Linked DNA regions of Homo sapiens: region 1 is linked to region 2. Evidence: fine-mapped expression QTL. A gene starts in region 2. The other region holds a variant in brackets. All regions are shown on one strand. Distances are between the middles of the regions.

Evidence for each region. PIP is the estimated chance that this variant, and not a neighbour inherited with it, causes the effect. A credible set is the group of variants that fine-mapping cannot tell apart.
Region 1: its variant is the best candidate, but not a certain one, in a credible set for the expression of NAP1L2 in whole blood (TOPMed, PIP 0.74).

What each region holds. Positions count from the first base shown.
Region 1 is chrX:73,113,662-73,118,067 of GRCh38, reverse strand. No RefSeq gene overlaps it. Among named protein-coding and RNA genes, the nearest start is that of PABPC1L2A, 36 kb to the right of the region's middle. The variant A/G (reference allele first, on the strand shown) is at 2,440.
Region 2 is chrX:73,212,630-73,217,035 of GRCh38, reverse strand. It overlaps NAP1L2 (nucleosome assembly protein 1 like 2), which reads left to right and starts at 2,185. Exons shown (of 1, transcript NM_021963.4): 1 at 2,185-4,406. The coding sequence starts at 2,544. The coding sequence ends at 3,926.

The sequences.
Region 1 (4,406 bases), 99 kb after region 2:
TCTCTGTATTGGTTATTCTAGTTATACATTCTTCTAAATTTTTTTTCAAAATTTTCAATGTCTTTGCCTTTGGTTTGAATGTCCTCCCGTAGCTCGGAGTAATTTGATCATCTGAAGCCTTCTTCTCTCAGCTCGTCAGTCATTCTCCGTCCAGCTTCGTTCTGTTGCTTGTGAGGAACTGCGTTCCTTTGGAGGAGGAGAGGTGCTCTGCTTTTTAGAGTTTCCAGTTTTTCTGCTCTGTTTTTTCCCCATCTTTGTGGTTTTATCTACTTTTGGTCTTTGATGATGGTGATGTACAGATGGGTTTTTGGTGTGGATGTCCTTTCTGTTTGTTAGTTTTCCTTTTAACAGACAAGACCCTCAGCTGCAGGTCTGTTGGAGTACCTGGCCGTGTGAGGTGTCAGTCTGCCCCTGCTGGGGGGTGCCTCCCAGTTAGGCTGCTTGGGGATCAGGGGTCAGGGACCCACTTCAGGAGGTAGTCTGCCCGTTCTCAGATCTCCAGCTGCGTGCTGGGAGAACCACTGCTCTCTTCAAAGCTGTCAGACAGGGACATTTAAGTCTGCAGAGGTTACTGCTGTCTTTTTGTTTGTCTGTGCCCTGCCCCCAGAAGTGGAGCCTACAGAGGCAGGCAGGCCTCCTTGAGCTGTGGTGGGCTCCACCCAGTTCGAGCTTCCCAGATGCTTTGTTAACCTAAGCAAGCCTGGGCAATGGCGGGCGCCCCTCTCCCAGCCTCGCTGCTGCCTTGCAGTTTGATCTCAGACTGCTGTGCTAGCAATCAGCGAGACTCCGTGGGCGTAGGACCCTCCAAGCCAGGTGCCGGATATAATCTCCTGGTGCGCCGTTTTTTAAGCGCGTCGGAAAGCACAGTATTCGGGTGGGAGTGACCGGATTTTCCAGGTGCCGTCTGTCACCCCTTTCTTTGCCTAGGAAAGGGAACTCCCTGACCCCTTGTGCTTCCCGAGTGAGGCAATGCCTCGCCCTGCTTCGGCTCATGCACGGTGCACGCACCCACTGACCTGTGCCCACTGTCTGGCACTCCCTAGTTAGATGAACCCGGTACCTCAGATGGAAATGCAGAAATCACCTGTCTTCTGCGTCGCTCACGCTGGGAGCTGTAGACTGGAGCTGTTCCTATTTGGCCATCTTGGCTCCTCCTCCCTGTGCCACATTTTCTTAATCCAGTCTATCATTGTTGGACATTTGGCTTGGTTCCAAGTCTTTGCTACTGTGAATAGTGCTGCAGTAAACATACGTGTACATGTGTCTTTATAGCAGCATAATTTATAGTCCTTTGGGTATATACCCAGTAATGGGATTGCTGGGTCAAATGGTATTTCTAGTTCTAAATCCCTGAGAAATTGCCAGACTGTCTTCCACAAGGGTTGAACTAGTTTACAGTCCCACCAACAGTGTAAAAGTGTTCCTATTTCTCCACATCCTCTCCAGCACCTGTTGTTTCCTGACTTTTCAATGATCACCATTCTAACTGGTGTGAGATGGTATCTCATTGTGGTTTTGATTTGCATTTCTCTGATGGCCAGTGATGGCGAGCATTTTTTCATGTGTTTTTTGGCTGCATAAATGATCTTTAAGGCTTTTGAAAAAAAAAAAGAAAACCCCATTGTCGCAGCCCAAAAACTCCTTAAGCTGATAAACATCTTCAGCAAAGTCTCAGGATACAAAATCAATATGCAAAAATCACAAGCATTCTTATACACCTATAATAGACTAGCAGAGAACCAAATCATGAGTAAACTCCCATTCACAATTGCTACATTGTGTCTAAATGGGGTTTACCCAGAAATACAAGATTCACTTAACTTTTAAAAAACAGACAATATAATTCATCATGTGAACTAAAAACAGAAAAATCATATGATCATCTCAATAAAGCATTCATAAAATTTAACACCATTTCATGATAAAAGGCCTCATCAAACTAGGAACAGAAGGAAACTTAACCAGATAATGGACATCTATGAATAACTGACAGCTAACCTTATACTTATTGCTGAAAGAGCAAGTCATTTCCCCTTGAGATCAGGAATAAGACATGGCTGTTCACTCTACCACTTCTATGGGCCTTCTAGCCAGGACAATTATGCCAGTAAAAGAAATAAAAGGCATCCAGATAGGAAAGGAAGAAGTAAAACTATCTTGCTGCAGACGGGAATTTTGTATGTAGAAAATCTTAAGGAATCCATAAAAGAGAAACTAGAACTAAGAAGTCAGTTTAGTAAGGTTTCAGGATACAAAATCAATATAAAAACTCAATTTTATTTATATATAGTAGTAAAAGTGGTAAGAAATTGAAATAAATTTATAACAGCAAGCAAAAATATGAAATTCTTAGGGATAATATTTTCAAGATATATATATATATTGAAAACTGCTGCTGAGAGAAAGTAAAGAAGACCTAAGCAAATTGAGAGACATTTC[A/G]TGTTCACTGGTCAGAAGACTCAGTATAGTTAACATGTCAATTCTCCCAAATTGAACTATAGAATTGATGCAATCTCATTCAATATTCCAGATGGGATTTTTGCAGAATAGACAAGAATATTCTAACATTTGTGTGGAATTACAAAGGGCCTGGAATAGCCAATATAATCTTGAAAAAGGACAGAGTTGGAGAATTAAGACTTACTATAAAGCAACAGTCACCAAGACAGTGTGATACTGCATAAAAATAGGAAAAAAATGGATGATGGAACAAAATAGATAATGCAGAAATAAAATACCCATATAAGGACAACCAATTTTTCAACACAGATATGAAGACAATTCGGGGTAGAAAGGATAGACTTTTTAACAAATGGTGTTGAAACAATTGGGTATTTATAACCCCTCAAAAAAAAAAACATTGTTCCATACCTCATACATAAGCCAAAATTGACTCAATGTAGACCACAGACCTAAATGTAAGCTTAAATTCTAGTCAAAAACATATGAAAATCTGTTATGACCTTGTGTTAGGCAAACTTTTCTTTAATGCAACATGTAAATGATAAAGGGCTGTTATCCAGAACATACACATAGAACTATGTGTATATTCTCAGTAATAAAAATACAACCAACCAAATGGAAGAAGACCAAATATTAGAGCAAATTACTTTACCAAAGAAGAGACATGGATGAGAAATAAGCACATGAAAATATGTTTAATATTTCTGATCATGATGAAACTACAACTAAACACCACAATTTCATACCACTATACATGTGTTAGAATGGCTAAAATTAAAATGACTCTCCATATCAAGTGTGGGATAGGATGTGAAGGGACTGGAACAGTCATATACCACCGATAAGCATGTAAAAACGGTACAATCACTTTGGAAAACAGTTTTTGCAACATGTTAAAGAGTTAAATATACACTTATATGCCTCGGGTATTTCATTCTAAGGAATTTACCCAAGCCAAATGAAAGCATATATCTACACAAAACTTGTTCATGGATGTTCATAACAGCTTTATTTGTAATAGCCAAAAATTAGAAACATCTTAAATGTCCATCAACAGGTGAATGAATAAACCATTGCATATCTATACAACAGAGTACTTATCAGCAATCAATAAGTCATCACTATTTATTAATATATTATAACACAAACAACACAACACATTCCTTACAACACAAAGAATTTCAAAATAATTATTCTGATTGAAAGAAGCCAGGCCAAAAGAAGTTCATATTGTGATGTGTGTATGTGTGTGTGTGTGTGTGTGTGTGAGACAATCACCAGTTGTGCATAATTCTAGAAAATGAAAAGTAATCTATAGCCACAGAAAACAGATCAGTGGTTGCCTGGTGATGGGGAGGACAGTGTGAGGAAGAATTACAGGGAGGGAATGGAAGGGGCATGAGTAAATATTTTTTATCTTAAATTCACTGTTGAGACCTACTGCTCAGAAAAAAAGACTCCTTTCAAAATATTACTACCCATTGACAATGCACCTAGAACTCTGATGGAGATATACAAGGAGAGTAATGTTGTTTTCAGGCTAGCTAAACACAACACCATTCTGTAGCCTATGGATGAAGAAGTAAGTTTTATTATTTAAGAAATGAATTTCATAGGGCAAAACTGCCATAGATGGTGATTCCTCAGATGGATCTGGGCAAAGTACATTGAAAATCTTCTGGAAAGGATTCACCAGTCTAGTTGCCACTAAGAATATTTGTGATCAAATATTAACATTAACATTAATGGGAATTTTGAAGAAGTTGATTACAACCCTAATAAATGACTTTAAGGAGTTCAAGACTTCAGCTGAAGAGGTAACTGCACATGTGGTGGAAATAGCCAAAGAATTAGAATTAGAAGTGGAACCTGATGATGTGGCTGAATTGCTGCCATCTCATGATAAAACTTGAATGAATGAGGAGTTGCTCCTTACAGTTAAG
Region 2 (4,406 bases):
TCTGGGTTCTCTATTCTGTTCCATTGGTTTTTTGCGTCTGTATTTATGACAGTACCATGCAGCTTTGTAGTACATTTTGTCATCAGGCAGTGTGATGCCTCCAGCTTTGTCCTTTTTGCTCAGGATCATTTTGGCTATTTGGGATCTTTTGTAGTTTCATAAAAGTTTTAGGATATTGTTTTCTGTTTCTGTGAAGAATGTCATTGGTATTTTGATAGAGATTGCATTGAATATGTAGATTTCTTTGGGTAGTATAAACATTTTAACAATATTGATTCTTCTAATCCATAAGCATAGGATATCTTTCCATTTTGGGGTTCTCTTCATCTCTTTCATTAGTGTTTTTATAGTTTTTATTGCGTAGATCTTTCACTTCTTTGGTTAAATTTATTCCTAGATGTATTATTTTCTTGTAGCTATTGTAAATGGGATTGTTTTCTTGATTTTTTCAAATTGTCTGCTGCTGGTGTACAGAAATGCTACTAATTTATGTGTGTTGATTTTGCTTCATGCAAACTTACTTAATTTGTTAGTTCTAACAGTTTTTTTGTGGAGTCTTTAGGTTTTTCTAAATATAAGATCATGTCTTCTTTGAACAAGGATATAAATTAGCAACTTCCTTTCCAATATGTATGTCCTTTATTTTTTTCTCTTGCAAAATTGCTCTGGGTAGGACTTCCAGTACTATATTGAATATGGTCTTTAAAATATTTTTCTCTACACTTTATATTATGATAAAATATACATAACATAATATTTACCATTTTACCTATTTTTAAATCTACATTTCAGGAGCATTAAGTACAATCACACTGCTGTGAACCATCATCACCATACATCTCCAGAATATTTTCTTTTTCTTGAACTGAAACTCCATACACATTGAACAATAACTTCCTTTCCTCCCTACCCCAAGCCTCTGAAAACCATGTTTCTACTTTCTGTCTCTGTGAATTTGACTGCTCTAGATACCTAATTAAAGTAGAATCATACAATATTTGTTCTTTTGTATCTGGTATTTTCACTTAAAGGAAAAATTTATCTATAAACTGACAGAATTTAGAAATAAATACAACAATATGTAAACAGTTTTAATATCTGTGATAGTAACAAATTCTTTAAATCTGGAAAATAATAGTCACTTAAAATTTTAAAAAATTGTTCAATTAATAAATGATCCAAGTTAGAAATATGAACAAAATAAACCTCACCAATAATTACTATAGAGAGGAAATTTTAATTACTGCAAAGCTTTCCATCCTATAAATACATTATCAAATAGTTTAACCATTTCTTTAATGCTGAGATTTAGATTATTTCCAATTAACTCAAAAGCATCAAGCAAATGTTATGATTTCTAAGAATAAACATAACTTTCCATTTTGGCTTTTGTATATATGTATATTTCTAACGGCTGTTAAAGCCAGCATTAAGAAGGAGAAGCAGAAAGTCAGTATTGGGACTGGGGTTATTTATAAGCCAGGCAACTGGTTAATTGTGGTTAATTGTCTGGTATGTTTACTAGTCACGTAGTTGTATACACCATACTAGTTTTTCATCACAGGCCCTCATTCGCCCCCACTGCCATCGGACTTCCTCCTCCTCCCCTCACAGGAAATGTTTCGAGAATTTTTCAACCTAAAATCATATAGCTTGTGAAAAATACCGACAAACATAATATAGAATATTTAAATAACTGACACGCCACCTAAAGACCATCAGTGCTAATTCCTGGTGTTTTTAATCTTTGAAGCGTTTGTTTATCAGCTCTTCCACCATCCACCTCTCCCCTCCCCAGGTCCCCGATCTAAAATCAAAGAGATTGATTTAGGATGGGTGGGTGCCTTGTCTTCTCTCATTGTTCGACATTTTAGTTACGTTTTCTCTGAGCTCTCTGGAAAGCATAAAAGTATAATATCTGTTAAAAGTTGGATGAATGAACTAATGAACGCAATGGGATTCCAGAAAACTCTGCGGGAGATGGGCTAGAGGACGAGGAGGAGGTGGATGAATCAGCCATGTTAGAGAGCCTGGGAAGGTGAGCAGAGTTGAAAACTTGATAGATCTAATAATTTACTGGCTCTGGGTTTGTCAGTCACTACATTGCAGCAAATGAGATTAGAGCATAGTTGTGGGAGGGAAGGAGGTGACGCAGCAATCTATTTGCACCTAGAAATTTTAGGCAAGTGATAGCTGCGTAATCATACTGCGGCACCGTTTTTTTCTTGCAGCAGTAGCTGCTTGCGGAGGAGGTCTGCCCACTGCAGCTCTCTGCAGTCTCCGGCTCTCTCCTGCAGGATCGGTCAACGCAGCCGTCGCCGCCCTCTGCACCCAGCCCAGGTCGCCACTGCTTCAGTCCGGTTCTCAAAGCCTCAGCACCATCTTTTATCCCCGAGCAGCCTGGATCGTCGTTCCCTCAGTCCGGACGCCACTGCTAGGTCCGACCACCGCCGCTTCTGATATTTCGGTGAGTCTTTTCCTGTGGAGGTTTGGTCTCCCGATCTCTGTGGTAGCCACCTTAGGCGTGTACGGTCCTTTGAAAAATGGCCGAGTCAGAGAACCGCAAGGAGCTGTCAGAATCCAGTCAAGAAGAGGCTGGTAATCAGATAATGGTGGAAGGGCTCGGGGAACATCTGGAGCGCGGTGAAGATGCCGCTGCTGGGCTTGGAGACGATGGGAAGTGCGGTGAAGAAGCTGCCGCTGGGCTTGGGGAAGAAGGGGAAAACGGTGAAGATACTGCTGCTGGGTCCGGGGAAGATGGGAAAAAAGGTGGCGATACTGATGAGGACTCAGAGGCAGACCGTCCAAAAGGACTTATCGGTTATGTTTTAGATACAGACTTTGTTGAAAGTCTACCTGTGAAAGTTAAGTACCGTGTGTTAGCCCTTAAAAAGCTTCAAACTAGAGCGGCCAATTTAGAATCCAAATTCCTGAGGGAATTTCATGACATTGAAAGAAAGTTTGCTGAAATGTACCAACCCTTACTGGAAAAAAGACGTCAGATCATCAATGCAATCTATGAACCTACAGAAGAGGAATGTGAATATAAATCAGACTCTGAGGACTGTGATGATGAGGAAATGTGTCATGAAGAGATGTATGGTAATGAGGAGGGTATGGTACATGAATATGTGGATGAGGACGATGGTTATGAGGACTATTATTATGATTATGCTGTGGAAGAGGAGGAGGAGGAGGAGGAGGAGGACGACATTGAGGCTACTGGAGAAGAGAATAAAGAAGAGGAGGATCCTAAGGGAATTCCTGATTTTTGGCTAACTGTTTTAAAAAACGTTGATACACTCACTCCTTTGATTAAGAAATATGATGAGCCTATTCTGAAGCTCCTGACAGATATTAAAGTTAAGCTTTCAGATCCTGGCGAGCCCCTCAGTTTCACACTAGAATTTCACTTCAAACCCAATGAATATTTCAAAAATGAGTTGTTGACAAAGACCTATGTGCTGAAGTCAAAGCTAGCATATTATGATCCCCATCCCTATAGGGGAACTGCGATTGAGTATTCCACAGGCTGTGAGATAGATTGGAATGAAGGAAAGAATGTCACTTTGAAAACCATCAAGAAGAAACAGAAACATCGGATCTGGGGAACAATCCGAACTGTAACTGAAGATTTTCCCAAGGATTCATTTTTCAATTTTTTCTCTCCTCATGGAATCACCTCAAATGGAAGGGATGGAAATGATGATTTTTTACTTGGTCACAATTTACGTACTTACATAATTCCAAGATCAGTATTATTTTTCTCAGGTGATGCACTGGAATCTCAGCAGGAGGGGGTAGTTAGAGAAGTTAATGATGCAATTTATGACAAAATTATTTATGATAATTGGATGGCTGCAATTGAGGAAGTTAAAGCTTGTTGCAAAAACCTTGAGGCATTAGTAGAAGACATTGATCGTTAGAGCAGAGTATACATGGCCCTGAAATTAACTGCCCTAGATATAGTTACTCAAGGTATAAGAAGCCTTGTGTTCTGTATTTTTCTTGTAGTGTTAGTTAAAACATATGTTTCAAAAATATAAGAAAAGTTCAAAAACTAATTAATTTGACCTTGAGTTTTAGTAGTAGAATGTTTTCAAGAAATGTACACTGTGGTAAATGATTTAAAACACTAGTATAGTGTTGTGTAGCTTAATCCTTCTGAAGTCTTTTTGTCATGTAGCTATTAATCTGTGGCTATGAAATGATCAGAAATGCTAAGTGAGATCAATATTTGTTTGGAAAAAAAATCTTGGGAAACAACCCAAGGGTTTTCGCTGTTGTTGTTTTTCTTTTTCTATTTTTGTTTACTTAGTCCTTTAGCTAGTGGATTTAATTTTGTTGTGCCTGCTTCATTTTGCAATAACAATGCAGTAGAATTTAAAACTTGGATGCTTAAGAGG